Linked DNA regions of Homo sapiens: region 1 is linked to region 2. Evidence: fine-mapped expression QTL. A gene starts in region 2. The other region holds a variant in brackets. All regions are shown on one strand. Distances are between the middles of the regions.

What was found. PIP is the estimated chance that this variant, and not a neighbour inherited with it, causes the effect.
Region 1: its variant is fine-mapped to the expression of ZNF438 in blood mononuclear cells (TOPMed, PIP 0.92).

Annotation. Positions count from the first base shown.
Region 1 is chr10:30,984,681-31,000,963 of GRCh38, forward strand. The region is part of intron 1 of ZNF438 (zinc finger protein 438); the gene reads right to left. Among named protein-coding and RNA genes, the nearest start is that of ZNF438, 39 kb to the right of the region's middle. The variant A/G (reference allele first, on the strand shown) is at 8,813.
Region 2 is chr10:31,024,020-31,040,302 of GRCh38, forward strand. ZNF438 (zinc finger protein 438) reads right to left here and starts at 7,846. Exons shown (of 7, transcript NM_001143768.2): 1 at 7,814-7,846. It overlaps LOC105376481 (a long non-coding RNA gene), which reads left to right and starts at 8,489. Exons shown (of 3, transcript XR_001747410.3): 1 at 8,489-11,282. RefSeq lists silencers at 7,508-8,067, 15,108-15,308.

The DNA.
Region 1 (16,283 bases), 39 kb before region 2:
TGAATAAAACTGGCTAAGAAGAATGCTTCACATTCTTTTCCATGTGCATAATACTGTGGAAATTAGTAAACAGTCACAAACAAGTGATTCATATTCAGGGCGCAGCCTTTTTGACAGGAAAACAGTAATCAAGAGTTTGGGATTTGAAGATTTTTAAAAGGACACATGTCTAGTAAAGTGTGTCAGTTTGCCTGAGACAGTCCCAATTTACGGCCATTGTCCCAGTGTCCCACAAATTTACCATTTGTCCTGGATTTTTCATTTTCTAATGATTTTTTTTAATGATAGCATTAAAATATGCTAAGACTTACTTGTACTTTTAGGCTCTGCCATAATCTCATTGAGCCATGTGTGAGATGCATGTGCAATGAAGCCAGTTGTCAATTTCGCAACTTGCTTAAATCTTTAAGACACCTAGCAGTAACCCATTTCTAAATGTACTAAATGTACTGTAACTGATACTTCATTCTTAAAGACAGCACCCAGGCACCATGCAGAAAAAGTATACCTAGGCAGGAGCAGGTAGGGACAGCTAACTCCTCCAGTCTTGAATGAAGGTAGAAGAAATACTGAATACTGCTCCCTGCTCATGGCTAGCTTAAAGACACGGATTTAATGAAAGCAGACAGGACAGAGAAAGTGTTTTACGTATTATTCTCTAAAGCATGACTTTTCATCTAGATCCAATGACTTTTTAAAAAAATGCACTTAGTTCTGATTCTAAAGCGTCTCTTTTACATCATCAAAGTAAAGTGAAAACTGGTTGGCTCCATTAACAGAAAAACTCACAGTTAAATGTTGCCAGCTTTCTGTCAGCATCAGGAGATGTACCAACCAGAAAAATCAGTTAATTCCAATAATGGTTTGATGATTTCATCTAATTCATGAAACCAAAGTAAAGCTTTTGGAAGTTCATTCTGTAGAATATGAAACACTTGACATTGCTTTAATTGCTACTTAAAAATCAGTTTAGAAGTTCAACAACAAAGACAAAATTACCGTTGGTTCTCCTTATTCACAGTAGTTAAGTTCTATGAAGTCACCATGAACACTGAATTAGGGAATACCAAACTGTTTACTCATAAGGGAAATTCAGGGTTGGGTTCCTGAGAGCTCCTGAGAGCCTCTGATTACATTTTAATTAGCTGATCAAACATAACCTCATTTTATGTATATTTCTGTTTCAAGATACCTTATTAATATATAGTCATCCACTGCATGATGTGTCAGTCAACAACAGACTGCATATATGATGGAGGTGGTCCCATAAGATTATCAAGCTATATTTTCACTGTACATTTTCTATGTTTAGATAAATAAATATTTACTATTGTGTTACAATTGCCTACGAATTCAGTATAGTAACACACTGTACAGGTTTGTAGCCCAGGAACAAGAGGCTATACCAAATAGCCTACGTGTATAGTAAGCTATAGATTCATATCAGTACACTCTATGATACTTTCACAATGACAAAATCACCTAATGATACATTTCTCAGAATTTAACCCTGTTGTTAAGCAATGTATGGCTGTTCACTGTTGAGTCACTAACACTGAACTCATAGCCAACAGCACTATAAGTTTATCTATCACATGCATTTTCTCCTTAAGGCACATCACAGCCTTCTTGCACTTAGGCGCAATATACAGCACTTCAGTTCCACACTGGGTAGTCATTTTAAACACAGAAATCATAAGCCTAAAAAAGCAAAAATCATGGCACTATATAAACCACAAAAAGGAGACTTGTTTACCGTATGAGAGCTGAAGGAAATCAGCTTGTCAACTAGGAATGTGTTGAGCAATCCAAATTTTTCACCATTCTGTACCATTTGCAGTCATGCACTCAGTTGAATGCCTAGTGTCATGAGTATTGATTTTGCAGTTACAAATAAATTTTATAGGTTCAGTATCCCTTACCCTGAAATGTTTGGGGTCGGAAGTGTTTTGAATTCAGAGTTTTTAAAAATTTTGAAACATTTGCATTATATACTTATTGAGTATCCCTAATCCAAAAATCTGAAATCCAAAATGCTCCCATGAGTATTTCATTTGCGCATGACCCTTGAGGATTGTGTTGAGCATCATGTTGGCACTCAAAAAGTTTAGGATTTTAGAGCATTTCTGATTTTAGATCAGAGATGCTCAATCTGTAGTAAGCAGACGAATTCATGAAAACAAAATCTGTGAATAATAAGGGTCAATTCTATTTGTTTTTACAGTGATAACACAATTACAAACCTTGGTTGAGTACAGCATCATAGAAAGAACAATGTTCTTACTAAATTTAAAAAATGGTGAAACAGAAATAAACTTGGACTTGGCTGTGGTTCACATATAATTCACAGCTGTGCCCAAAACTGCAATATATTACCAATCAAAATTGGGGGAAACATATTTTACAACTGAATCCACAAAAGATGTGACATTCTACCAATTAAAATTTACAAACGTTTATACACACACACAGGGTTAAAAAAATTGAACTAAGGCTGGGTGTGGTGGCTCACACCTGCAATCCCAACATTTTGGGAGGACGAGATGGGAGGATTGCTTGAGCTTGGGTGGTCAAGGCTGAAGTAAGCTGTGATCACACCATTGCACTTCAGCCTGGGCAACAGAGTACACCCCTGTCTCAAAAAAAAAAAAAAAACTAAAATATTTGTGACAAAGCTGATGCTGAATTAAAAAAAAAAAATTCCAGCATGATAGTCCATGTTTTCTTTTTGTTATCTATCTTAGAATTCTTTGAGGCTTAGACTTTGCAAAATCATCAACATAACGGATGATTTTCATTCAAACATTACATTCAAAGTCAGTTGAAAATAGCTATGGACTAAACGTTTGTGTCACCTTAAATTCTTATGCTGAAGCCCTAATACCCAATGTGATGGTATTCAGAGGTAGTGCCTTTAATTAGCGTTAGATTAGGTCATGTTGGTGGGGCCCTCCTGATGAGATTAATGCTGTTATAAAAAGAAACAGATCTCTCTCTCTCTCCCCACCCACCACCCCCCATCCAAGTGCACACACCCAGGAAGGGCCATGTGAGGACATAATGAGAAGATCAAACCAGGTCTGCAAACCAAGAAGCAGGCCCTCACCAGAAACTGATCTGCTGGTGCCTTGATCTTTGACTTTCCAGCCTTCCGAACCGGGAGAAATGAATTGTTGTTTAAGCCACCCAGTATGTCATATTTTGAGAGAGCAGCCCAAACTAAGACAGAAATCTTTTATTCAAGATTTAATTTTTATGGCGAACTTACTTTTTTACTTAAATAAGTTTATATTATGTACTAGAATAAAATGAACTTGAGAATGCCTACAATTTAGCAGCATCTAAATTTGGTTAAGATGTTTAAAAGATTTCCATAATAGACACAATTTATTTGACAAGTTTGTCATAAAAATTTTATTGAATAAAGGTGCTGTAAATCGAGTTTACTGTTTTTTTTAATAGTAGCTTTGAAAATGTATGTGCTAGAATATTTACATATTAAACTATTACAAAATAAAATTTAATAGAATTTGCTTTGAACTTACCAGGTACCTCATTATCGACATAGAGATTACATTCTCAAATTTAAAAATCACAATTTATATAGAAAACAGTAACTTGAAAAAAATCAATAATTTCAAATGTAGCAATCACAAAATGCAACCTGAAAAAGACTACAATTTTATGAAGCAATTAAAGATAAAATACAACCGTATTTTTAAAATTTTTTTTCCAGGAAAATACAGAGAGCTGTATTCTGTGGAGCTCCTTAGTACTTTCTAATCTCCCTTATGTAGTATATTATTAGTCAGGGTTCTCCAGAGAAAGAGAGAGATAACAAGATTATAATTATTGTACCTAATAAATATATTAGTACAAATTATAGCTAAGAAACTAAATAATGTAAGCTTTTACTGAGAATTATATTTACGCTATTTTTAATGTTAAAACAGTTTTGCTTTAATGAATATAGCTATATGTTAATATGTTTTAGAAATAACTTTATTTTTAAAATAATTTCTTAATAGGACTATTTTATAGGTTCGCCAATATGATGAAACCAATTTGTCAGTCAAGCAATAAAATTATATAAGTTTACAGTTTTTTAGAAAGAATATCAATTTTGGCAATAAACAGTTAACCTAGATGTGACAGTTAATTTTATGAGTCACTTTGGATAGGTTATGATGGCCAGCTGTTTGGTATAACACTAATCTAGATGTTGTGTGAAGGTCTCTGTGGATGTAATTAACATTTATAATTAGTTGACTTGAAATAAAGCAGACTCCATACTGTGGTGGGCCTTATTCAATCAGATGAAGGCCTCAACAGCTAAGATAAAAGTTACCTGAAAAAGAGGCAAGTCTACATCAAGATGGTAACATAGAAATGCTGAGTTTCCAGCCTACTAGCCTATTTTGCAATTTTTACACTCAAGACCATTACCAACTCTTACTTAAGTATATAGCCTGCTGCTGTATTCTACATGTTTGATTTGCCAACTCCCAAAATCCTGTGAGCCAATTCCTTAAAATAAACTCTATATCTTTCTCTTGTTCTCTCTCTGTTTCTCTGGAGAACCCTGACTAATAATATACTACGTAAGGGAGATTAGAAAGTATTTAAGGAGCTCCACCAAAAGGAAGCTGCTCCCTGATAAGAGTAGAGAGAAAGGGTTTTATTTTAAGAAACATGCAAGTAAAGAAGAATTAACATTAGCATTAACTTCTTTTAAAGAAGAACAGAATCCCAGATTCTATGGCCACATCTTCCTATACCAGAATGATACATAACCCAATAACCCTGACCCTTAGCTTTCAGAGAACAGGGACATATCTTACATCTCTTTGTATCCCCTTTCTAGCAGTGAGTGTGAGACAGAGAAGATGCTCTAAATGGTTGCTGAATAAACTAAAGTCTCAGAAGACATCTCCAGTCCTAAATGTGATTAAGGGGGCGAGAATGTATGCAAAAATATGGATTTTAATGTTTTGAGTAGTATTGTGGTGTTGTCATTCTGAGACTGTTGTGTGTGCACTATAGGATGAAAATACATAATTGTAGGACTTTCCAGTTCTATAAGCACTCATATCCTTGAAAACAGAGGAAAGAGATACAGAAAGAAGATTTAAACACACTATCATCTCCACCATAGTCTCAAGTTTGAATTGGAAACACCAATATAAACTTATGAAATATTTTTATTTTATCTTCAATATGTGCACATACTTCTGATCTCTGTCTACAGAAAGGGCTGAGAGAAAACATGATCACCCCTTAAACAGTAGGGCTTCTAAGAGAAATAGCTGAATCTAGGACTCAGGAGCTAAGTTTAAGAGGCTTCCATTGGCCAAAGATGGAATAATTTGAGCTTCAGTGATGGTAATACTTGAAATGAATTAACTAATACGTTAAATTCTAAAAGTTCATAATAATATTCTTAAAAAACTGGTCACCTTTAAGAGATGATAGAGAACCAATTCATTATCTTAAGAAATATATCAAAGGGAAAAAATCAAGAATTTATGTTACCTGTCTTTTGAGAACTCTGGGTAACTGAATAAGAAATAAGGACATGTATCTCTTTATAAAAATATTCCAATGAATAAATGAAAAAAATAAAAAGAATTAGAATGTTACTATTTTTCAAACCTTAATGAACAAATAGATACAAATAATATGCATAAATGGCTGCTAAGATCACAAAAAAAGATGCAACCAAACATTGACAGTAGGTTATCCAGACCAGCAGCCTCAGCCTCACTCAGATACTTGCCAGAAATACAAACCCTCAGGTCCAACCTCCAATCTCCTGAATCAGAAGGTTTGGGCATAGGACCCAGTAATCTGCATTTTATTATTACAAGCCCACCAGGTGATTCAGAGGTATCCTAAACTTCATTAAATTCTATGTATAGAACTGCCAAAGGAATCAAATCTGAGTCTGATCCAGTTCATGGACAGCTGCCAATTTATAGGAATTATAGAGGTCAGAGAAACGTGTGGATCTACACCACAAATACGCACACATTAAAATCCAGAATGTGGGAAATTCTACAGATCAAACCTCCCAGGTTCTTCAACAGGTAAACTGTATGAAACTTAAAGGGATGGAGAAGGAACGTAAAGATTAAGAATCTATAAAGTAACCTGTATAGATTAAGAGAGATTGAAGATATATCTTTTTTTTTTTAATGAGCAAAACCAAGAGACAACTTCCAGAATGGAGGAATGAAGAGTGCCATAGAATTTCTCCCCAACAAAAACAATTTAACTGGAAAAAAAATTGTTTAAAACAACCACTTAAACTGGAAATTGTTTGAAGAGTATATAATAAATGGAGAAACATGCATTCAAGAAAATATTCTAAATCTTGGTAAGAGCCTGTCAGTGGCATTTGAGCCATGACCTGCTCCCACCTTACCTCCCCTGCACCTCCAAGCTCTGACTTATGTCTTAGTCTGTTTTACTTACTCGAGAGCTCTAGTCCAGAAGGTCCGGTCAAGAATATGGGGGCTCCTTTTCCCCTCAGCTCCCAAGCTGGGGCTGCATTTTCACCCTGGTAGAACAAGCCACTGGCACTGTTCATTTTCCCTAGCCCTCTATGGTAGAGTTTCTATTCTGTAGAGGCACAGCTGAGAGGGCCAGGGCTTCCTTACTCTAGCCAGCCCTCATTTGTGGGGCAAAAGTTCTACTCTAGGTGCAGCAGGCTGAAAACACTGGGCTTCTATCACTCCTGGATCAACTTGCTGGTGGGGCAAAGGTTCCATATCCATAGGGGCAAGCCAAGAAGACAAGTGGCTAATGCCCATGCTCCCAACACCCTTTTATAGCAGGGGTGTCACTCTGGAAGAAGTGAGTCACTATTCCTGCCCCCAGTTTCTGTGCAGTGGTGCAAGGTTCTACCTGTGGGGAGATGCAGACTGGAGACAGCAGCCCTTAAGGACAAAAAGTTCCTCTGCTCTGTCTGAGGGAATTGACATAGTTAAGAAGGTGCTCATGGCCCCAGGATACAAGCAGCAACCAACAAATTAGGACTATCAGAAGTTTAACAGAACTAGAAAAAGAGACAGCCAGCTCACAGTAAACACAGAGGTCAGGAAGGCTGTGCCCAAGTGGGAGGCTGCATCCACTTGAGCAATCAGAGCTTGATATGGGCACAAGCCACACAGATCAATTAAAAAAGGAAGCTTCACTGTCACTCGGGGGCTGAAGTATAACCTCTGATCAAACAGTGGCTGAACAATAAGCTCTTCTGCCCCAAGATCAACTCCTAGGAAGCCAGGCTTTAATATGAAAGTATCCCTGGCAGTTTACTAGACTGTGGGCATGCTCAAGGCTTGCTTCGCTCAGGAGTGACTGGGAATGAATAATCCAAGCTACTAATCTATGGCTGAACATGGGGCAAAACAAACTTCTTGCCATCTGCAAGACCCTTGCCAGATGTTAGTACCTTACTCTTGGACTTCCCAGCCTATACACTGTAAGAAATAAATTTATTTTTTGGTATTCTGTTATAGCAACAGAAACAGACTGAGACATAAAATTGGTACCAAGACGTAGGATTTTTGCTATAATATCTGAAAATGAAGAAGTGGCTTTGGAACTGGGTAACGGGTAGAAGCTGGAAGACTGTGGAGGAGCTGGATAGAAAAAAACCTGCATTGCCATAAATGGAGCATTAAGGGTGATTCTGGTGAAGGTTCTGAAGATGACTAGAGAAACTCTGAATCTTCTTTTTTTTTTTTTTTTAAGACAGTCTTGCTCTGTCGCCCAAGTTGGAGTGCAATGGTGCAATCTCAGCTCACTGCAACCTCTACCTTCCAGGTTCAAGTGATTCTCCTGCCTCAGCCTCCCAAGTAGCTGGGATTACAGGCATGCGCCACCAAGCCCCACTAATTTTTGTATTTTTATTAGAGGAGGGGTTCTGCCATGTTGGCCAGGCTGGTCTCAAACACCAAACCTCAGGTGATCTGCCTGCCTTGGCCTCCCACAGTGCAGGGATTACAGGCGTGAGCCACCGTGCCCAGCCTGAATCTTCTTAGAGATTACTTAAGTGCTCATGACCAGAATGTTGATAGAAATATGTAAAGGTCATTCTGAAGAGGCCTCAGATGGAAATGAGGAGCAAGGTACTAGAACTTGGAATAAAGGCCACACTTGTCACAAAGCAGCAAACAGCCTGACACGCCTCAAGGCTATGTCCATGCCCTAGGGGTTTGTGGAATGCTGGACTTGAGAGTGATGAACTAGCATATCGAGTGGAAGAAATTTCTAGCAGCAAAACATTCAAGATACTGTGTGGTTACTTTTTGCTACTTACAGTGAGATTTGGGAGCAAAGGGATGACAAAGACAGAATTTATAATCAAATGAAAAGCAAAGTGGAAAGATTTGGAAAACTCTCCTCAGGCTGGCTATGTAGAATTTAAAAAGCTTGTTTAGGAAAGGAAACCAAGAATGTGGCCTAGCAACCATTTGCTAAAGAGATTCATATTGATACAAGGGACCCAGAGGCTATTCATCAGGACAATTAGAGAAAGACTCCAAAAGGCATTTCACACATCTTCAAAGCTGCTCCTCCCATCAGAGGCCCAGAGGCCTAGGAGTGCAGAATGGTTTTGTGGGAGCCCATGGCATCCATGGCATTCTGCACAGCCCGCTGTCCAGGACTGCCTCAGGACTCTGCTCCCTGCACCCCACAGCAATGCTCTGTGGCTGCCCCAGTCATGACCCAAGTAGCAGCAAGTGTGGCTCAACTCACCACTCTGGAAGGCACAAGCTATAAATTTTGGTGGCATCCACAAGGTGCT[A/G]ATTCTGCAGCTGTACAGAATGTAACAGAAGTGGGGCTATGGTAGTTTCACCTAGATTTCAAAGGATATACCAAAAAGACTGGTGCCCTGGCAGAGACTTGTCAACAAGGGTAGACTCATTGCTGAGAGCCCCTCGTAGGGCAATGCCTAGTGCAGCCAGAAGCAAGGCCGCAGCAGAGTCCCCACTAAAGTAATGCCTAATGGAGCTGTGGGAGCAGGAATGCTGCTGAGATCCCAGAACTATACCACCAGCATGCAGGTCCAACCTGCGAAAGCCACAGGCACCCAACTGTAACCTACAAGGGCTGACATATGGACTGAGCATAGTAAAGCCACGGGGTGGAACCACTTGAGGCCTTGGAGGCCCAACCCTGCACCCGTGTGCCCATGATGCAGGACATGGAGTCAAAGGAGATTATTCTCCAGCTGTAAGATGTAATGCTGTTTTCCTTGTTGGGTTTTCGTTTTACATGGGATCTGTTACTCCTTAATTTTTTCCTGTTCCTCCCTTTTGGAATGGCAATGTCTGTCCTACGCCTGCTCCACCACTATATTTTGGAAGTAGGTAACTTATTTGATTTAACAGGCTCACAGCTGAAAAGAATCTGCCTGAAGGCAAATAACACCATGTGTCTCACTCAAATCTGATTTACATGAGACTTGGAACTTTGGGCTTTTGAATGCATGATAGAATGAATGAAGACTCTGGAGCTACTGGGATGGAATGAATGTATTCTTAAACACCAGAAGGACATAAATTTTGGGTGCCCAGGGTGGAATGCTATGGTTTAAATGTGTTCTCCAAAGGTTCACCGTATTGGAAACTTGGTCCTGAATGCAGAAGTATTGAGAAGTAGTACTTTTAAGAGGTGACTGGGTCATGAGGGTTCTGCTCTCATGAATGGATTAGTAGATTAATAAGTTACTGGATTAATGGGTTATCACGCAGGTAGGCTAGCTATCACAAGAGTGCATCTGTTTATAAAATCCAGTTTTGTTCTCACTCATGTGCCCTCTCAGCATGTGATGCTCTGTGCCACCTTGGGACTCTGTAGAGAATTCCCACCAGCAAGAAGGCCCTCACCAGAGGCTCGCACCATGCTCTTGGACTTCTCAGCTTCCAGAACCATAAGAAATAAATTTCTTTTCCTTATTGGTATTGGTCTTTGGTATTCTGTTACAGTAACAGAAAATGGACTAAAACAGATGCCATTAGGAGAAAAAAGAGGCAGAAATAATACTTAAAGAAATAATGAGGCTAGGCATGGCGGCTCACATCTGTACCTCCAGCATCTTGGGAGGCCGAGGTGGGAGGATTGCTTGAGCCCAGGAATTTGATACCAGCCTAGGAAACATGGTGAGACCCTGTCTCTATAAAAAATATTAAAAATTAACCAGGCAGGGTGAAACACACCTGTAGTTCCAGCTACTCAGGAGGCTGAGGTGGGAGGACTGCTTAAGCCTGCAGTGAGGTAGAGCCTGCAGTGAGCTGAGATCATGCCACTATACTCCAGCCTGGGTGAGAGAGTGAGACCCTATCTCAGAGAGAGGAAAAAAAAAAATGAATGAAAAAGAACAAAAAATAAATAAATAATGGTTGAAATCTTTCCAAATTTGATAAAAGAAAAAGAAATATGAATCTACACATCCCCCAAGGAGCTCAACAAATTCTAAATAGGATAAATACAAAGAGATATACTTCCAGACACATTACAGGCAAAATCTTGAGAGCCAAAGACAAGGAGAAAATCTTGAAAGCAGCAAGAGCAAAATGACCAGACAAGTACAAAGCAGCCCCCAATACGATTAACAGCTGACTTCTCATTAGAAACAAGGGAGGCCAGAAAGCAATGGAATTAAATATTCAAAGTACTAAAGTAAAATACTGTGAATTATGACTCTAATATCCAGCAATACTGTGTTTTTAAAATAAAGGTCAAATTAAGGCATCCCCAGAAAAATAAAGACAGAAAATTTGTTGCTAGAATATCTGTTTCACAAGAAATACTAAAGGAAATTCTTCAGGCTAAAAGCAAGTAACACCAAACAGTAATTGGAAGCCCCAAAAAACAAAGCATGCCAGTAAAGGAAATTACGTACATTATTGCAAAAGACACTGTAATTGCATATTTCTTCCCCTTTCTTCTCTTAACTGATTTAAAGAATAATTCAATAAAACACTGTAGCTATAATTTAATTATTGGGCTAACAACATTTACTGCTATACATTTAGACAATAACAGCACAAAAGAAGCAGGTGAGAACAAAGTTCTTCGGGAGTAAGAAAATGACCCCAGAGCTAACTCAAATATGCAGAAATATGTAAAGAAAATAAAAAATAGAGAGGTCAATACAACTAACTATAAATACGTACTTGCTCTCCCTTGTCTCAGCTTCTTCAAAAGACATAAAGTAAAAATTACAACAGTGTGTTGTTGGGTTTGACATAATAGGTACATCAATAATAGCAGAAAAAGTTGGGGAAGGAAATGGAGCTAACAGAGGAAGTCTATTTTGCTGAAAGTAAGTATAAATCAGAAGTGAAATTCTTATAAATCGGGATGTACACTGTAAACCCTGGAGCAACCACTAAGAAAATAACTCAAAATATATATTTTTAAAAGTAGCAAAGGAATTAAAGCATCACACTACAATATATCTACTTAATTCAAAAGAAGGCAAGAAAGGAAAGAACAAAAAAGACCTGAGACCTATAGAAAACAAAATTCGTAACTGCAGACAAAAATCCAACTATATCAGTAATCACATTAAATGTGAACAGATGAAGCAATCTAATCAAAAGAAAGATTATCAGGCTGTATTTTTATAAAAGAAAAAGAACAAAGATCCCAACTATATAAAATCTACAGAAGACACATTTTAGGTTCAATCATACAAATAGGTTGAAAGTAAAAGCTATACCATACAAACAGTAAACATAAAAGAATCAGGCAAAATACATTTTAAAGCAAGAATATAATACTAGAAATAAAGAGAAACACTTCATAATGACAGAAGGGTCAATCCATCAGGAAGGTATAACAATTAGAAGCATATATGCACTTAACAAGAGAAGGAAGAAAAGACAGTTGAAGGGATACACAATTGAAAAATAATAATTGGAGACTTCCCTCTTTCAATACTAGATAAAACCACCAGGAAGAAAATCAACAAGAATACAGAAGATTTGAACAACACTGTAAGACAGCCAGACCTACAGACAACTATATAACACTCCACTCAACAAGGCAATATGCATTATTAAGTGCACATGAAACATTTTCCAAAAGAGACCACATGCTAGGCCATAAACAACCTTCAATAATTTAAAGAGATTAATCACACAAAGAATGTTCTCTGAAACAATGGCATGCAATTAGAATACAAATCAGTAACAGAAGGAATTTTAGGAAATTCACAAAGATGGGAGGGAACCACACTCCTAAATAACCAATGGGTCAAAGAAATCAGAGAGAAAATTAGAAAATACCTTGAGATTAGTGAGAACTAAAACTCAACATACCAAAATTTATTGGATACAGCTAAAGAAAATAATACCCAGAAAGACATTTGTAGCTATAAATGCCTATATTAAAAAAGAAAGATCTCAAGTGGATAATCTAATCTTCCACCTTAAGACAGAACCTACAAAAAGAAAAGCAAACTAAACCTAAGCAAGCAGACGGAAGGAAATAATAAAGAATAATGTACAAACAAATGAAACAGAGAATGGAAAATCCAGAAAACAAAGACACTGGCAAAGGATTTGGGAATCAGGTGGTTATTGCTGTTGATAGAAAGGAAGGTTCTTATTAGGAGGAACAAAATCCAGATTGCAAGGAATTTAAGGAATAAATGGGAGGGGAAAAAAATGAAGGCAGCATATGCAGACTCTTCTTTCAATAAGCCTGAAGAAAAAGAATGAGAAGACTGAAAATGAACGCAAAAAGAAATTATTAACAAAGTCTTCTAAGAGGCAGAAAGGAATTAAAGCTCTAGGCAAATAAATTGGCCTTGGAAGATACGGCAGACACTAGTGGTTGCCTACCTAGTCTTCCCTTCTTTCTGAATAACAAAATCCTATTTTTTTTTTTTTTTTACCTTGGGAGGAGTGAAGGGCCATGAATCTTGACTAGTCTAAGCCAAACACAGGACTTCCGTACCCCTCACCACTGACTGGCTTAGAAACGGGTATAGGATGCAATTTTAGCTAATGAGGTCATGTTTTCTAGGAGGCTTCTAAGAAAGTTTTCTTCATTTTAAAAAAAGACATAAGAGAGACACCTTCTTTTCTTACAGTCATGGGTGCTTTGATATGAGTATGTCATTCTTGGAGTTAAAGCTGCCATCTTGAGATGAGGAGGGGAAAAGTCTGAAGACAAAAGCCAACTTATCAGGATGGTAGAATGAAAAGACAGAGCCAGAGAGTCTGATGATAAGAGTTAGCTGCTATATAAGCCAACAAAAAAACTATCTTTCTTCCAGATTTCTAGTTATATGAGACAATAAAATGCAGTTATTACATACGATACTTTCAGTTGGGTCTCTGTCACTTACCAGCTGAAAGCATTCTAACTGATATAGAAAGAAAGATACTTTCACAAGACAGATGTGGATGAAATTAACTTTGCATGTTGGAGATAAGGGAATTTGAGAGTTTCAGCCTAAAGTTTCATTTATTAAAGAAAATGAAACTCATATAGATCCATTTTACAAAGGGAGTGACCTTAACAGCTGCTGTTTCTTGCTTTAAAATATCAAGTATTGGCTGGGCGCAGTGGCTCATGCCTGTAATCCTAGCACTTTGGGAGGCCGAGGCGGGTGGATCATGAGGTCAGGAGTTTGAGACCATCCTGGCTAACACAGTGAAACCCCGTCTCTACTAAGAAAAATACAAAAAATTAGCCGGGCATGGTGGCGGGCCCCTGTAGTCCCAGCTACTCAGGAGGCTGAGGCAGGAGAATGGCGTGAACCCGAGAGGCGGAGCTTGCAGTGAGCCGAGATCACGCCCCTGCACTCCAGCCTGGGTGACAGAGAGAGACTGTCTCAAAAAAAAAAAAAAAAAAAAAAAAAAAAAAAAAAAAAAAAAAAAAAATCAAGTATTACTAATGATAACAATAGCTAGTAATGAAGACGATTATGATCATAAGCTCATGGTTATTAAAGTATTTTTAAAGCTAGGTATTTTATCCTTTATTGTTTACCTTCTGCATTCTATTTGACTTCAATAGTGAAAACACACCGATCTCTTTTACTTTCTGTTTATAACAATTTTCATGGCAGTTTCATTTTTCATACTTTCATGGTATATAACACAGTATACCATGATATAGTTTACAGAGGGAATCCTTAACTTTGAAGAACAAACACTTTGAAAACTAAACAATTTATAAAAAGATTTCTCTATTTCCATACACTTTCTGAATCTGGTCAAGAAAATAAAACAACATTTCAACTGCATCTGTGCAATGATAGCTTTGATTCATATCAGAAGACGGAAAATCAACACTGTAGCCACATAGATACATACCAGAGAAAGCACACTTTTAACAGAAATAACAAAAAACACTAGAATTGTGCTCTTATCCAAGCGGTTCCCAAATGGAAAAAAAAAAATCTGAAAGTTAAATTGTAAGACAGCTTTTGAAGCCCAAAACATTTTTCCTATAGAAACAACATTACTATGAGTCATGTCATTACTAGGCCAGTCCATAAAAGCCTTGTAAAACCATATGCATAAGACTGTTGTTTGAACTATACCAAAGTAGAATAACAGTTTTTCCTTGGGAAAATACATCATTTTCTCCCTCTTCTCTCTACTAAGTCCCAGAGGAGTGGGCCTCACCAGGGGCTCTGTTCACCTCTCGGAGCTCAGCAGTCATCTCCCTCACTCTGACACTCCATGGTGAGCCACACTGAACTTCTCCAACCTGCAGGGCCTCTCCACTCCAAGTCATTACTGTTATGACCTTCCCTTCTTCTTCTTGTAGGTCACCACCACTCAGCCTTCTGGTCTCAGCTTAATGCTACTTCCTCAGGAAGGCCATCCCTTGTCTCCACACTGAGTCATGTGTTCCTGATGTGTGTGCTCTCACATGACACTATACTTTCCTAACACAGCATTTGTCAATCTCCCCCATAAGCTCCACTGTTTCAGGGATTCATTTCATTTGCTATTAATGTTAAGGTCAGAAGACTGCCTGGCATTTTGACGATTCTTTACACATATTTATTTATATGAATGATTTCTCATAAGATACTTTAATCGTTTTTAACTTGATCTATGGTCATTACCAAGGAAAAGGGGGGGTTTCCAAAGAAGACTTCTCCTCCCCTCAATTTACACCTAGAGATTGTTCATAGGGAGGAAGCTACCTATCCAATTTCTTTCCCATTGCTGGTTTATAGTCACTTAAATGGACATTAAAATTTTAGCAAATAGGTATATTTTCTTTATTTGTCTTTTTAGAAGATGAGGCCTTTGAATGATGAAGGAATAGGTATATTTTCTAATATTAACTTTATCTCTTTTTTGTAGGTAATGTCACTCATTCTCATGACTTTTATGTCGGCAACGAAATGCTTATTCCCAAATTTGTGTCTCTATGCTTGATTTTTCTCTCAAGCTTAGAATCCAAACTTTCAGCTGTCTACAATTTTTATACCTGAATGTCCCACAAAAACTTCACCCCATCCCCCTGCCCAAGCTTTCTTTTCTCTGGTATTCCCCATTTCAGGTATTTCAGATAATGACATCACCATCTAGCCAGCGGAGTCTCACACCCACGTTATCTCGTCCTTGTTAATTATTCACTGGACCATGGCCTAACAGTGTTGGCATCACTTGGGAGCAGAATCTGAGGCCCCACTGCCAGACCTATTGAATCAAAATCTACCTTTTAACAAAATCCCTAGACAATTCACATGCACATTAAAATCTGAGAAACACTGATGTATAATTCCTTTTTCTCTCTACCCCCACAAAACTCTGATACCAAGTCTACATAGGCAAATATATTCCCTCCCATCCATTTCTGTTATCATGGCCCTGATTAAGCCATCACTTCCTGTGGTGATGTGGAACACTGCAATGGCTTCTTAGCTGACCTCATTCCTGTAGCCCACTGTTCACCCAGACTTTTAGAAGGGACACTCTGATGTACAGCTATGAGAGGGCATATGGTTGGCTGGCCAGAACTGTGCATAATGTAAAGCCTGTCCTATCTATGTTACAATTTAAAATCTGGGGATGCTCACAAAATTGTCACATAGAAAAGCATGCAAAAAAAAAAAAAACTTTTCTTGTGTTTCCTTGTTATAATCACTGATCTCAATTTTCTTTCCAAATACAAACCTAATCATGTCATATCCCTCTCCAAAATCTTTTAGTGGCTTCTGAAGACATCATGTATTTCTACACTTCTACCTTTCTGTTCATGCTTTTCCCCTTTTCTCCTATCCATCTTGCAAA
Region 2 (16,283 bases):
ATTAGAATAGGCTTACAAACACTGAATTACCAATGATTCAAGTGGCAACATGAGTTTCAAGAAACCTAATTAAGTTAGGCAAAGATTCTGTGAATTTATCCAGAAATTGTCAGATTTATTTATTGGAGAATATCTGAAGACACAGAATAGCTCAGTGGAAACAGCCAAACTACATTATGAGTTGGGTGGCACTGAATAGGTTATTTAATATCTCTAAACCAACTTCTTTTTCTATAAAATGAGAGTAATAACTCTATTTCACAGTATTGTCAAGAAGATTAAATGGGATAACAATAACTGGTAACTTTAAAAGATTCCTAGGTACGGCCGAGCGCAGTGGCTTACGCCTGTAATCCTAGCACTTCGGGAGGTGAAGGCGGGCGGATCACGAGGTCAGGAGATCGAGACCATCCTGGCTAACACGGTGAAAACCCGCCTCTACTAAAAAAATACAAAAAATTAGCCGGGCTTGGTGGCGGGTGCCTGCAGTCCTAGCTACTAGGGAGGCTGAGGCAAGAGAATGGCGTGAACCCGGGAGGCGGAGCTTGCAGTGAGCCAAGATCGCGCCACTGCGCTCCAGCCTGAGCGACAGAGCGAGACTCTGTCTCAAAAAAAAAAAAAGATTCCTAGGTATAAAGTTCTAGATTTGCTTTCATCACTAACTTATTAACACATATGGAAAGTCATTTAACCTAAGTCTGTTTCTTCATTGGTCTAATAGTGAGGATAATGCATGCCCTACACATTTTATGGGCTGTTTGTAACAATCAAAAATGAAAATTAATGTGAAAAGGATTTTGACAGATATAAACCATGAAACTGTGAAATAGCTAATTTAACATATACAACAATAAAGGGAATTCACACTAGGAAACCTGTTACAATCCAGGATTATATAAAGTCCAGATTAAATTAATTTTAGTAAGAAAAATATTCATAGCCAAAAACAAATACAAAACCACTAGACACACTAGCAACCAAAAAAATTCAAGGCTACTATTATTAGCTCCAAGAATTATTTCCCATTCAGTAAATGAACCAAATTAGCTCAGCTATCCAACAAACTAAAAGCAGTACAACACAATCCTTTGTCCAAGTCAGGCATTTGCCACTTAAAACTACCACCTCCATTTCTAAAGCAAAAAAATAAAAAAATAAAAAAGGAGGAACAGAAGGAAGGAGGGAGTGAAGGAAGAAAAGATATTACAGAATTTCTCAACATCAGGAGTACTGACATTTTGAACTGGATAATTTTCTGTTGTTGAGAAGTTGTCTTGTACATTGTGGGACATTCAGTGACATGCTATAATGGCCTCAATCCACTAGATGCTAGGAGTAATGTCCCCACACACAAATGTGACAACCAAAAATGTTTTCTAGACATTGCCAAATGTCCCCAGAGTGTGTTGGAAAGTAAAAAATCATTCTGAGTTCAGATTCTTCACAGTATCATCTTCCAGTATTTATTTCACACTGCTTGGTGGCTTGCAATGCAGACTGAAATTAATAGCTTTGCAATTGAAGAACCAAATAAGAAAATACTCCCTGTAGAATAGTAACAACTTGAAGAATAATAGCTACGTAGTTATGGTTAAATTATTCCTTTCATCGACATACTGGTTTTGCTTACTATTCCCTAAGAATTTTCTTCTGGGTGTTCTTTTGGGGTTAAAACTTGGTTAACCTGTCACTAAAGCTTAGTCTCCACCTAGACTTACTAATTATTAGCCATTAGTGTAATGTGTTAAAATCAAACCTAAAGATTTTAATTTTTAAGCAACCAAATGTGAAATGAAGCAAAAATAAGTGCTACTTATATAAATTATTTAAATATATTCAAACATTTAGAGTGTAAAGTACACAAACAAGCATCCAGCTACTACTACAAATATATATGAGTTGAAGATAATAATGCAAAAATAAAAGTGATTGCAAGAAGTAGAATTTTGACAAAAACAAGAAATGGGGAAAGGATTCCCTATTTAATAAACGGTGCTGGGAAAACTGGCTAGCCATATTGAGAAAGCTGAAACTGGATTCCTTCCTTACACTTTATACCAAAATTAATTCAAGATGGATTAAAGACTTACATGTTAGACCTAAAACCATAAAAACCCTGGAAGAAAACCTAGGCAATACCATTCAGGACATAGGCATGGGCAAGGACTTCATGTCTAAAACACCAAAAGCAATGGCAACAAAAGCCAAAACTGACAAATGGGATCTAATTAAACTAAAGAGCTTCTGCACAGCAAAAGAAACTACCATAAAGAGTGAACAGGCAACCTACAGAATGGGAGAAAATTTTTGCAATCTACCCATCTGACAAAGGGCTAATATCCACAATCTACAAAGAACTTAAACAAATTTACAAGAAAAAATCAAACAACCCCATCAACAAGTGTGCAAAGGATATGAACAGACACTTCTCAAAAGAAGACATTTATGCAGCCAACAGACACATGAAAAAATGCTCATCATCACTGGCCATCAGAGAAATGCAAATCAAAACCACAATGAGATACCATTTCACACCAGTTAGATTGGCGATCATTAAAAAGTCAGGAAACAACAGGTGCTGGAGAGGATGTGGAGAAATAGGAACACTTTTACATTGTTGGTGGGACTGTAAACTAGTTCAAACACTGTGGAAGACAGTGTGGCGATTCCTCAAGGATCTAGAACTAGAAATACCATTTGGCCCAGCCATCCCATGACTGGGTATATACCCAAAGGACTATAAATCATGCTGCCATAAAGAGACATGCACACGTATGTTTATTGTGGCACTATTCACAATAGCAAAGACTTGGAACCAACCCAAATGTCCATCAATGATAGACTGGATTAAGAAAATGTGGCACATATACACCATGGAATACTATGCAGCCATAAAAAAAGGATGAGTTCATGTCCTTTGTAGAGACATGGATGAAGCTGGAAACCATCATTCTGAGCAAACTTTCACAAGGACAGAAAACCACACACCACATGTTCTCACTCACAGGTGGGAATTGAACAATGAGAACACTTGGACACAGGGTGGGGACCATCACATACCAGTGCCTGTCGTGGGGTCGGGGGAGGGGGAAGGGATAGCATTAGGAGACATACCTAATGTAAATGACGAGTTAATGGGTGCAGCACACCAACATGGGACATGTATACATATGTAACAAACCTGCATGTTGTGCTCATGTACCCTAGAACTTAAAGTATAATTTAAAAAATAAATTTAATTAAAAAAAGAATTATATTTAAATGCTCAGTATGTACTATCACTGGGCTAGACACACTGTTTTCAACAATAAATCTTCATATATATAAAAGTACTCATAAAATAGTTTAAAATTTGCTTGTGCAAATGTAAATTTTAAAAGGAATCTGAATTTTATTTACTATCTAGGATGTTATATTTCGCATGGTCAGTGTTAGAAACAGAGGGTCCTGTTGTTTTCAGATAGAACTTACCATCACTCCCCCTCTGCTGGGAGCTACCTGACACAATTAAATAACCATCAACCTGCCCTCACTGTGCCTGAACTTAAAAGTCAATAACACCTGAGCATCAATAGGCTATTGACTATGCAATTTTACTTTATACCATATATGGGTATCTGATGTTCCTGGGAAACTAACTGCAAATGTGGTGTAAATAAAGACTAATCATTTCAACTCCATTAAATGTAGGGAAGCTACAAGAGCAGATTTAAAACGTTGTGAACTGCAAAATGAGATGGCACCCCTCTACATTTACGTTAGTAGAGGGCTTCTGTTTAGAGTAATCATAGATCTGGTTATTTAGATACTTTCCCAATGAAAGCTTAAAACAAAATATAATTTTATATATTTTTAAAAATTCTGAAATTAACCATAAAATCTACGGCAGTGCAATTTTATATAATTCTTACATGGTTTAAATTTGAAATACTCATGTTAGGAAGTAACAAAATTGTGACAACTGTTGAGGTTATGGTATGCCATGAAAGATCTACGGGAACAAGACACATCTTTTTTTGTTTGTATTTTTCTAGTCTCCATGTTCTACAATGATCCAGCTATACGAGATGTAATCTGCAATTCCACCTACAATATATATCACCAGATCCCCTTTCTATGACAAAAAAAAAATACATGTCAATGTTAGAGATGGTCAGCAAAGAAACTCAAACTTATTCCAATAGGTGGAACTTTGGCATGACACACTTAAACCGGTGGAAACCTGCCTGAATACTTCACCCAACCCCTCCATCACCCTCTATTATGCAAGCTGCAACATTTCAAGCCAACTCCCTTATTTCTCTGGTGAGCCCTGTCAACACTGAGGTAATAGAACTGGAAAAACTCATCACTTCAAAAGGACAGTCAAATATCAGAATTTATTTCATTTGGTAAAAATTCTATCATTGCCAAATAAAGCTAATGCAAATATAGTAAAATATGCATGATTTTGAGTAATTCTTTTGTTGAAAAGGACTCTTGGGGAGCCTCAACTTCATCCTGCAACAGCTTAGGCATTCTTTTGCCCCTTTGCCCTTTTCATGCCCCATCTCACAAGTCATGGAAGCTGGGGAGGGGAGGGTGCAGAAAACCCAAATGAACTAATCGGCATGTATTTATGCATTTAGTCTACTCTAATTTTATTCCCACAGGTTTTTCCTCATACCCTGCTCCTCTAAGGTAAAGAACTGTTTTATTCATCTCTGAACTTCCAAAACCTAACCAAATGCCCATTATATAAAGTCATCCCTAACATCTACTACACAGCAGGCACTGGATTAGGGACTAGAGATAGAGAAGTCAAAGAGACAGACCTTGCCCCTACGGAACCTACAGTGGGGAATACCAGATACTGGCTGCATGAACCCAGTCAGGTCGTAATCAAAGACCAGTTAGCACAGTCCCACTGCCTATAATCTTTCTCCCACAGACAACCAAAGCTTAGATGAAAAACAAAAGCATGCTTTCTCTTCAGAAAAATAAATGGGTATCTCCAACCCTGACCACTCCCCTGAGTTCCATATTCACAGGCATGCATACTCAACATGTTCACTCGGAGGTGGTTACAGGGATTCAATGCATGGACTCCAAAGCCACAATGCTTAGGTTTGAATCCTAGCTACATCACTCACCAGCTGGGTGACTTCAGACAAGTCACTTATAACCTCTTTTTGCCTCTATTTTCTCGTGCTGTAAAATGGGGACAATAATGGTTCCTTGCACATATAATTCTTATGATGATTAAATGAATTAATATAGGTTAAAGTACTTAAAACCCTGCCTGGGACTCAGTTTACGCTTACATAATACTATTTTTACTAGCACTGTTGTTATGACTATGTCTAACAGGCATTTAGAACTTGTGCAAAACTAAATTTGTAATTTTCCTCAGTAAACAGCACCACTATACTTCTAGTTGTTCCAGCCTAAACCTAAAAAATCATCACTTCTCCCTTTTCTTCAAATTCCACATCAGCTCGTTTCCCGTCAGCTCTACCTTCAAAACGTATCACCAATTCTACCGCCTACCATCATCTCCACAACTAACCTCCCCCAGCCCAAACCACCATCATTTCACCTGCAGGGCACAGCAGCTTTCTCCCGATTTTCACTCCATCCGACCCACTCTAATCTACAGTTAATTCTCCATACAATAAAACTTAAATCAGACACCAGTCCCTTGATGCAAACCTTCCAATGGTTTTCCATCACAGTTAGAACAACATCTTTACTTCACCACAGCCTACAAGGGACCCCACGGCCTGCCTGGCCCTTGACCATCATTGGCCACTACTTTCCCCGTTCCCGGCTGTGCTCTAAACACTCTCACTGTGTCTGGACCACCTCAGAGCATTGTCCTGTGCTGTTCCTGCTGTGAGGCCGAAAATACAGTCACCTGGAGCCTGGACTCTGAAGTCAGACTGCCCACGTTCAAATAGTCTCTACCACGTTTTAGCTGTGCAACTTTGGCAAATTCTTAACCTTTCTGTGTGTCAGTTGCCTCATCTATGAAAGGGAGATACTAGGTTACATCAAAAGACTTGTAAAAATTTAATTTAGTGTTCAGAATAGTGCCTTACATATGGTAAGCTCTACTTTTTTTAAGTGTTCATTGCTATTAATTATTCCTCTCTGAAATGTTCTTACCTCAGGCTCTTTCCCTCACACTTCAAGTGTCCCTGCCTTTGAATGGCTTTTCCTGACAGATCCCACCAAAAACAACCTTCCCTGTTCCCCCACTGTCCTCCTTTCTTCCTTCCCTTCACTGCACTTATGACTACCTGAAATTACATTATGCACGTATTGTTCGTTGTCTATTTCCCACTGCAATATGAGCCCTGCTAGGTTGGAGGCTGTCTTCTTTGCTGCTCTATTTCCAGAGATTTCTGACTCACATCTCATCCAGGCTAGGGGACCAATGCGAATCTCCTAATAACAATAGCACACTTAGCCTTTCATTTGCACTCTCGTGATCTCATTTGATCCTGGAAAAACCAACAAACAGATAAACCATCGGCTCTCATTTTAGATAAGAAAAACAAAGTTCCAAGTTTGCGTGACTTGTCCTTGGACACGAAGCTAGTTAACGAATAGAACAAAAATTAGAAGCCCTGCTTTCTGATTCAAAGGCTCTTCCTACCTGGATGAAAAGATATCACACTCCTGAAATGAATTTACAGAAATGTGAACTCTCGAGCTCCTGTATAAATACACCCTGAAGTGTGCACAGTATTCTTCCCTTCAAAGTTCCTGAAGACTACTAGTCCCGGAGTTTGAGAGGCATTATAGTCTAGTAATAACTAATCGATAATGTAGTACCCCTTGACCAAAATATTCAAGCAGTCAGATACGATGATTGGATATTCCAAATCGATACAGCAATCCTTAAAACTCAGTGAGTCTGTGTTGTCTATAATGTGCTAGTTCCAGCACACTGAAAGCTTCCTCTGCAAAACCCAGACAACGGGGGCATTGTAATTGCCAAGAGTACCGTGCTAACGATACCTGTTATTTCTTGGGATCCCCATTCTATCAAGTTTAGTGACAACAGTTCGATCACCCAACAGGCTCCAGTGTGGTATAGAATCAGATGGAGGGAAGGTTGTCGGGGGGAGGCAAAACAGTGAAAAAGTTCCCCTTCTACAAGATTCCTGGTCAAATAGCCAGTGGCTACCACATTCCTCAGAATAACCAAGTGTCTGTGTATAAGCTTTCTCCTAGCAAATTTACACACTTGTGTTATCTCACGTGTTCCTAGTGCTGTGGGAACAACCATTAGGGAGGCCAGAGGCTGCTGTACCTCCCTTTTACACAAAAAAGAAAACTGAGGCAGCAACTGGTTATCTTATAAATGTGTCCACGATGACTTGGTCACTTGTGGGATCCCAACGGCCAGGACATAGGATTCCTATTCTCTGAGAGGAAGCTTCCATCCCCTACTTAACATGTCAAACTCCAAGGCTGAGAGGGGGAAGAAAAGGAATCTAAGTCCCTTTATCACGGAAGAAAAAAAGGGACTCTCCATTTGGACTTTCCGCCCCTTCTAAGGCCTCGCTCCCAGGCTCGGAGACGCGCCCCGCCCCAGGGGAAAAGGTGCTGGCCCGGCCCCACGGGGCGCGGCCTCGCCTCCCGCACCCCAGGTCCCTACCGCCCAGCAGGGCGCGCTGCCACTCTGAGCAGACACCTGTCCCTTCGCCACAATCGGCGACTCCCCAAGGAACTGACGCCCCCAGAGCCACCACCACCGCCGGGACTGCCAGCTGCCAGCGGGCCCCGCAAGCCCTAGGAGCTGCAGGAATCCTCGTAAACTTACAGTTTTCCTACAGCGTGCGCGTCACAGCGGGGTGACGTCACGGGCCCAGCAGTCGGGGAGGTCAAGCCACGGGGCGCGGGCCGCTGGGCCCCCAGGCTCCGCCCTCGCCCCGCCCCGGCGCCGCGGCGGGAGACACGCCCCCGAGCTCCACGCCCTCGAGCTCCACGCACCTCCCCGTAGCAGACACCCCGCGCAGGCGCAGACGGCCTCTGCGCCCGCATGCCTGTGGGCTTCGCCGACCGGGGCGCCTGCGGCGGCGACTGCTCTACCAAAGCCTCACTCAAAGCCTGAAGTCGGGGTTAGAGGAGGAGGAGGGGCCGACAAAAGGGGACGGAGACCTTCAGAAATACTGTAAACAAGCTGTCGCCCTGGGGGCTGGAGTAAGACGCCTGGGTTGTGAGGTAGTTTTTCCACAGACATTGCCCGCCTTCCTCACGTGTTCGTTAAAAGTTCTCCACGTGTGGAAACAGCCATTTGCTCTCCATCAGGTGCTGGCGGGTCCTCAGCCCTGAAAAGACAGCTCTCCCAGGGTCCCTCGCTCCTCCCCGGCTCGACGCGGCTCCCGCTAGACTCCGCCCAGACCCCGAGCAGTCCCCGCCCATCTCTTGACTATGCCCCTCCCACGCCCACTTAGGCCTTGCCCCTGGGTCCCGCCCTTCCGGCTCCCGCCCCTGGCTCCCGGCTCCCGCGGGCCCCCACCTGCCCTTCTTGCCCTGGCGCCGCCTCCAGCCCAGCCCGTTTCTTGCAGATTTTAGCTTCTCCCTTGCCTGCCGCCTTTCCCGTTTCGGCTCGGTGAAGCTACCTATGGGTTGCTGTTCATTTAACAAACGGTGATCCGGATAAACATGTTCACTTCTTCGCCTGGGCAAACTTTCCAGCCCCCGACCCACTCATGTCACGATACCTTCCCGTGTCCAAGTCCGGCTCTCTGCTCCCCACTTTTTTTTTTTTTTTTTTTTGAGACAGAGTGTTTCTCTGTCTCCCAGGCTGGAGTGCAGTGGCGCGATCTCAACTCACAGTACCCCCTGCCTCCCGGGTTCAAACGATTTTCTTGCCTCAGCCTCCTGAGTAGCTGGGATTACAGGCGCGCGCCACCACAGCCGGCTAATTTTTATGTTTTAGTAGAGACAGGGTTTCACCATGTTGGCCAGGATGGTCTCCATCTCTTGACCTCGTGATCCGCCCGCCTCGGCCTCTCAAGGTGCTGGGATTACAGGTGTGAGCCGCCGCGCCCGGCCTCTTTGCTCTTTTATACTCTCAGAAGCAATGAGTTCTGGTTAAAAAAAAGGGCTCGATAGACGGAAAAAATGAAGGCTTAAAGAACTGACAACAAAATATTAACATTTGGCTTGTGGAATTCTTACACTCTCGTAAGCAGAAAAAACAAATGTTATGGCAAAAAAGTGTCTCAGACAAATCCGTCTTGGGGGGAAAAAAATTAAAAGAATGAGAAAAACAGACTTCGGAATAAATAGACCCAAAGGAGGAAGTATTGAAAATGGCAAGATTCACTTTTACAAACTTATTTGGAACCACGGCAGATGGCCAGGGCAGGGATTTTGCAAGGCAGCTCCAGTTGTAAGTAAAACCTGAAACAATGGTTTATTTCCACTCTCATTGAAAGTGCTGTCTTATTTTTACAGGAAAGAGTGATGATGGGAATATTAGGCTTTAATTCGAGATCTGAGCTGGTTAAAAATAAAAACGTTTATTATTCCAGAAAAATCTACGTCAGTGTTTTTAAATGTTCTGATTTGAAAAAATATTTGTATATTTTATCTGAATATTAGTTATTATCAAATGATGTAAAAGAAATTTGTAAAGGCTGTACCATAATTGTAACAATAAGGTTTTTCTGTAGAGCAGAGGTATAGAAAAATTAACATTTTTTAAAGTCCTGCATATTTTTAAAACAGTGATATTTATGTTTTTCCTTGCAAAACAATTTTAAGAAACCTTTAAATTGTTAATAGTTTACATGCTTATAAAATGTTTTATATATATCATTTCTAAAAATCGTAATTTTTTTAAGTGAGTTTCTAGGTATACCTTATGGGAGTGTTTCACAGGTACATGTCATCTGTTATTTTTTGGAGTGGAAATGGGTAAGAAGCATACACCAAATGTATCAAATGTTTTTACTATAGATACTTTTGCCTCTGAAAGATGGCATTGTAGAATATAGTCTTCTCATCGTATTGTTCAGTATACTTTCTCTTGAAATCTCAGGTATTCAAAAAAAAAAGTCGTTGTTTTGCTAGATGCAGGAAAAAAGTAAACGCAGTGAACAAAAGATGGCCAACAGTAAAGGTACCCAAGCAAGGATCACAGTCTCAAGGAATGTCAAGTAGAAATTTGTGGGAAAATACCACTCACGTTCAGTCAACTTTCTGTAACAAACTGGAATTTGACCTAGACAGGAAGTGAGAAGCTAGGGCCAAAAGTGTTGTTATTAAAGAGAGGATCTGCTTTTTTAAAGAAAATAAAACCCTGGACCTTGGAGGTTTAGCACTGGAAGCACTGAGGCCCTCCACTATGGCCCTTGGGCTTTCAGTTCCCCCTTGTGATTCTTTCTCTTTGATATCTGCTGCCCATAGCAATCTGGCTTCCAGAGCCCTCTATGTCAATACACACATCTCTTCCCTTGGTCCTGCTTAGCAAGCTAAGAAAAGCTGAATTAAGACAAAACAGAGTACTTAATGTATGGGGAAAATAAAAGTGAAAGAAATATAATTCCTAATATTTCCTGAGTATTGATTCTGTGCCAAGCATTGCATTATTTCCTTGAATTCTTGCAACTAGATAAGAACTGTTACTATCCCCATTTTAAACACAAGGTAAGTAGGTTAAGTGCCCATGTCACACAGCTGCTGAGTAACACAGTCAAGATTCCAGACTTCATACTTCAGAACCCACAGCCATAACCACTAATCTGTCTCAAGTTTCATACAACCAGGCACAAATTATGCAAGAAACAGAGGGACTTAGGAAGTCCAAAATATGGACTTAGCTCTAAAATACTGACCACAGTGTATGGGTATCTTCTTCACTGTTTTCCATCCCATCTTTGCATGACTGCTTTTATTTGATTTTTTAAGGTGGTCATCATGACCCAGTAAGTTGATTTTGTGATCGGTTAAAGGGTAGCTACTCAGAAAAACACTAATCAGAATCCAAAATACAAAATATCAGATTGTATCACATGTAATAAGGGTATTTTTTTCCCAACACAAATTAGGGGAAACTTTCAGCCACATGTGTGTATTCTGGGTTGCAACGTTAAATGTATTTCATACTATGGATTTCAATCAAAAAAAATTTGAAAAACACTATTATAACCACGCCTTGCCTAACTAACATGCATCATTTATCCTTCAGGATCAAGACCAAGGGAAACAAAATCCCATTCTGCAATCCCCTTACATTCCTCTCTTAAGTCCCAGGATCTGGTTTGATGATCTCTTCCCAGGTAATTGACATAAAAATCAGGTCACTCCTGATTAGAGATAGGCCCTTGTCTCCAACTCAAACCCAAGAATATACTAATAACAACAAAATAACCATCTATAAAACAAGAGTTACACAGGTTAAAAGGGGGCTTATTCTGCCAAAGGAGCAGAGATAGAGACTTTGCTGGAAGAAGACCTGGGACAGAGATTGGAGAGCTCTGGAGGGATGTCTGTTTAATAACAGTCTTACAAGTCTGCAGTTACACAGTTTGCACAGTATTTCATCTCATTTTATCACCTCCCTTCCCTCATCATTTTACTTAGCTAATTCTCCCCAATCCTTTAGGTCTCTACTTTGCAGGAACTGACTCTGAGAAGCCTTCCCTAAGCAGCTTTGGCTCTCTGCATTGCAAATTATTTTAATTGCTTCTTCTCCTAGACTGTAAGCTCTGTGAGAATAGGGGAAATGTGAGTCTTAACCTCGAATCCTCTACATGTAGTATCCCAAATAGATTATCAGTTAATATGTGTAGAGGAATGCGTGGTGAATGGATGGATGAACTCGAATTCAAAGACTGGGTAGCTTTCTTACTCAAGATGCTAGTTATTTTCTAAAAAGGGGATACTGTCAATAGAAATAATTCTGATGAGAAAATTCCTTTAGGAGACAAGTCATTTTGAATGGCAATGCAGCATAACATAGTAAAGCACTGAACAGGGCCAGCTCTGTTATTAACTGGGTACTTTATGGCAAGTCCAGTAACTTCTGCAAGCCTCAAATGGGGTTAGACTTACTAAATATTACTTATTTATTTTTGAGACAGGCTCTTGCCCAGGCTGGAGTACAATGGAAAGACCATAGCTCACTATAACCTTGAACTCCTAGGCTCAAGGGATTCTCCCACCTCAACCTCCTGAGTAGCTGGGACTGCAGGCATGCACAACCACATCTGGTTATTTTTACTTTTCATAGAGATGACATCTGGCTGTGTTTCCCAGACTGGTCTCGAACTCCTAGCCTCAAGCAATCCTCTCGCCTGGGCCTCCCAGAGTGCTGGGATTACAGGCATGAGTCACTGCTCTGGGCCTCACTAAATGTTATCCTTGATGAATGTCCTAACAGGATGTTATCCCTCTGGTAACTCGGAAATCAGAGCAGGCCACCTGGAGCCTTATTTACATGAGGTCTCCTGAAAGACACTGACAGCCACTGGGGGATAGCAATTAATTCTCTTAAACAAAGGATGTTAGACAAAGGCTGTCCCCAACAAGAAGGGGTGGAGGGAAGCGAGGAGGGAAATGGAAAGACAAGGAACCTGTGTCCTTGTTCTGAGAAGCCCAGTTCTTGATTTGAGTACAGGGCCTGGAGCATGCTTCTGACTGTAAAACGGAAAGAACCAAACTGTCCTTGTGCGTGTATTGGGATTGGAGAACAGGGAAGAAGGTACAGGAGAAAAGATACCAAAAAGATTTCTGGCCAGGCACGGTGATCATGCCTGTAATCCCAGCACTTTGAGAGTCCTAGGCAGGCAGATAGCTTGAGACCGGGAGTTCAAGACCAGCCTGGGCAAACCCCATCTCTACAAAAAATACAAAAATTAGCCGGGCATGATGGTGTGCACCTGTGGTTCCAGTTACTTGGAAGGTGGAGGCAGGAGGATCACTTGAACCTAGGAAGGTTGAAGTTGCAGTGAGCCATAATTATGCCACTGCACTCCAGCCTGGGTGACAGAGTGACACTTTGTCTCAAAAAAAAAAAAAAAAAGATTTTTAATTCCTCAAGGGAAAAAAACCTCGCCAACTACATCAAGACATCATAGCAGACAGGCAGAATGTTCCAGAAACAGTCCTTTAGGCATTCTGTTCTTCCCTGGAATCTGCTTGCTTTCTTAGCCCTTGGCGAAGGTCTACTGATTCTTGGAGTTCAAATTCTATCATTAATTACCTCTGCTGATAACAGCCAGCCTTTACTAAACTGGTACTAGATCTAAGACGTCACAGAGCACTCCATATGAAATCTTTTAATCTTCACAACTCTATGAGGTAGCTACTATTATTATCTTATTTTGCATATGAGGGAAAAAAGTGAGACCCAAAGCCATGGGTCACTGCTGTGGACTGAATGGTGTCTCTTCTGCCCCCAACCCCCCAGTTTGTGTGTTGAAGTCCTAACTCCCAGTGTGACTGGATTTGGAGACAGAGTTTTTAGAAGGTCCTATGCTTTAGATATTGGTGTCCCCTCCCAAATGTGTGTTGAAACTCAATAACCAATGTAATAGCATTAAGAGGAGCCACCTTTAGGAGATGATTAAGTCATGAGGGTGGAGCCCTTGTGAATGGGATTAGGTGCCTTATCAAAAGGCATGATAGAGGGAGTTCATCCTTTCTTGTCTGCCATGTGAGGACACAGTGTTTCTCCCCTCTGGAGGATGCAACATCATGGCACCATCTTGGAAGCAGAGAGCAGCCCTCACCAGACAAGGCAGTCTGCTGCTGCCTTGATCTTAGACTTCCCAGCCTCCAGAACTGTGTCTAAGTAAATTTGTTTATAAATTACCTATAGTATTTTATTATAGTAAGACAAATGAACTAAGGAGGTGAGATTAAATAAGGTCATAAGGACGAGGCCCTAATCCAATAGGATTGGTGTTCTTATAAGAAAAAGAGGAAGCAGAGTTCTCTCTCGCCACAATGTGAGGACACAGTGAGAAGGCACTCATCTGCAAGCCAGGAAGAAGGCCTTCAGCAAGGAACCAAATCTGCAAGATCTTGATTGATATTGAACTTTTCAGCCTCTAGAACTGTAAGAAAATAAATTCCATTGTTTAAGCCTCAGCCCAAGCGTACTAAGATAGTTACATTGCTTAAAGTAATCTGACTCCCCCTTACAAACTTTACTGTATCTCCCTGCTTTGCCCAGGTGGTCAGATCATTTCTTCTCCCTGTTCTTCAACACAACTTCTCCTATAACGCATACAGTATTTCTTCACTTAAACACACTTATTTTTTTAACATTGAAGTATCTCTGAAATTAGAATTCATCTTGAAATTGAAGAATATCATAGTTTAATTTTAGGAGGTAAAAAAAACTAATGGTTTCTTATAATTGGTAGCACCTTAGATTGAGTAACACATATTATAATTGTTTATGCTTCTTTTGCCCCCCCTCAGCTATGAATCCTTTGAAGACAGACACCGATTTACTCAACTTTGTGTTCTTAATACCAAGCACAGTTTCTGGCACAATAAAAAGGAATTTTACAAATTTCTTTAATCCAGTTGAAGAAGGAAGGTCATCCACCCAATGGGGTGATGGGTGGGTAGAATCTAGGAGTCAAAAGTCATTACTGTTGTCGCCAAAACTCATGGATGTCCCCAAGACCTTAATGGCCTGTGAAAACAAAGTCACAACTTCTCTGAAGTTTATCCCAGTTAAGTTCTATCTGCCTCTAAAGGCCTGTAATTTCTCCCCTTGGCAATTAATTCAGCAGGTTCCTTCTCTGCTTGACAAATTGTCATTTATTTTCCATCCTTCATGTTTGGTTCAGGCCATTTTTAATCCATTAAGGCAGTTATATTAATGACAAAGTAAAATTTTAAAATCTGATTTTGCAAACTCAAGTCTAATTGCATTTAGAGTTTAAGTGGAAGGTGGCACTCAGCTCTCAGAGGTGTTTGGTCTGATTCATATTGTGTTTTTTAAATTTTGAAATGAATATCAGAAAACACATTTAAAAAGCAAGTTGTATTAGTACATTTTCAGGATGCTATAAAGAACTGCCTGAGACTGGGTAATGTATAAAGGAAAGAGGCTTAATTGACTCACAGTTCTGCATGGCTGGGGAGGCCTCAGAAAACTTACAGTCATGGCAGAAAGAGAAGGGGAAGCAAGAACCTTCTTCATAAGCAGCAGGAAGAAGTGCTGAACGAAGGGGAAGAGCCCTTTATAAAACCATCAGATCTCGTGAGAACTCACCCACTATCAGGAGGACAGCATGAGGGAAACTGTCCCCATGATTCCATTACCTCTACCTGGTCTCTCCCTTGACACATGGGGATTATAATTCAAGATAAGATTTGGGTAGGAACACAAAACCTAACCATATCACAAGTATTTTGGCTTTTTCTGAAAAATCAGAAGCTCTGACAGTGTTGTTCCCCCACTCACTCAGGGCATTTATTATTGGAATGAGGCTGCCTGGTTCAAAGGCACAGATGTTCCACATTTTCCTGTAACCCCAACTGGGTATTATTTAACCTATCTGCCTGGCTCCTGAAGGCCCTTGAGTTTATGATGACTCTTAAGTGAAGAGCTTGATCATTTAAGCCTCCAGCTTAAGAATGATCATAAAACCTGCAAAATGAACAGCTTTGCCCAGAAATTCATTAATGTTGTACATGAATTCATGATTTTTAATAGTTACATTTGCCCCTATGAATAGATTTTTCACAATTTTTATATCTATCTTCTGGAGAAGGAACTTTTTGTGCATTAGGAATTACCTGTTAAGGTGTCAACTTTTGCTATTTAAACAAAAGAGAAAAATACTTAATAAAGTTGAAGTGTAAAATAGGAAATTGGGTTTCCAGTGTGGCCCTGCATGTATAATGTTGTGTTGATGGCACTCACAGAACACACAGTCCTACCTAGCTAAGAGTCCCATGTGTTTCTTTCCCTGGGGCCCTCTCTTCTCACATAACACATGAGAGAAGGGAGGTGAATGTTTGTTAGCTATCATGTTCACATTTTATTTTATGCCACAAATGGTAATAGCAGTCACTTTCTGATTACATTTAAAACTGAACTCCAAGGCTGCACAGAATGTGGGTATCTAATTCTTCTGTTATTATGGTGAGAGTCTCTTGCCTAGTCATACAATATGTGCTACTATTGGTATTATTAATGTTAGTTGGGATAACTTCTTAGTGAATGAGAGAACACTAAGACAACAGGCCTAAACAAGATGATTCAAGCTTATTTTATTTAAGAATGTCTGGATATAGGTGGTCCAGGATCAGTT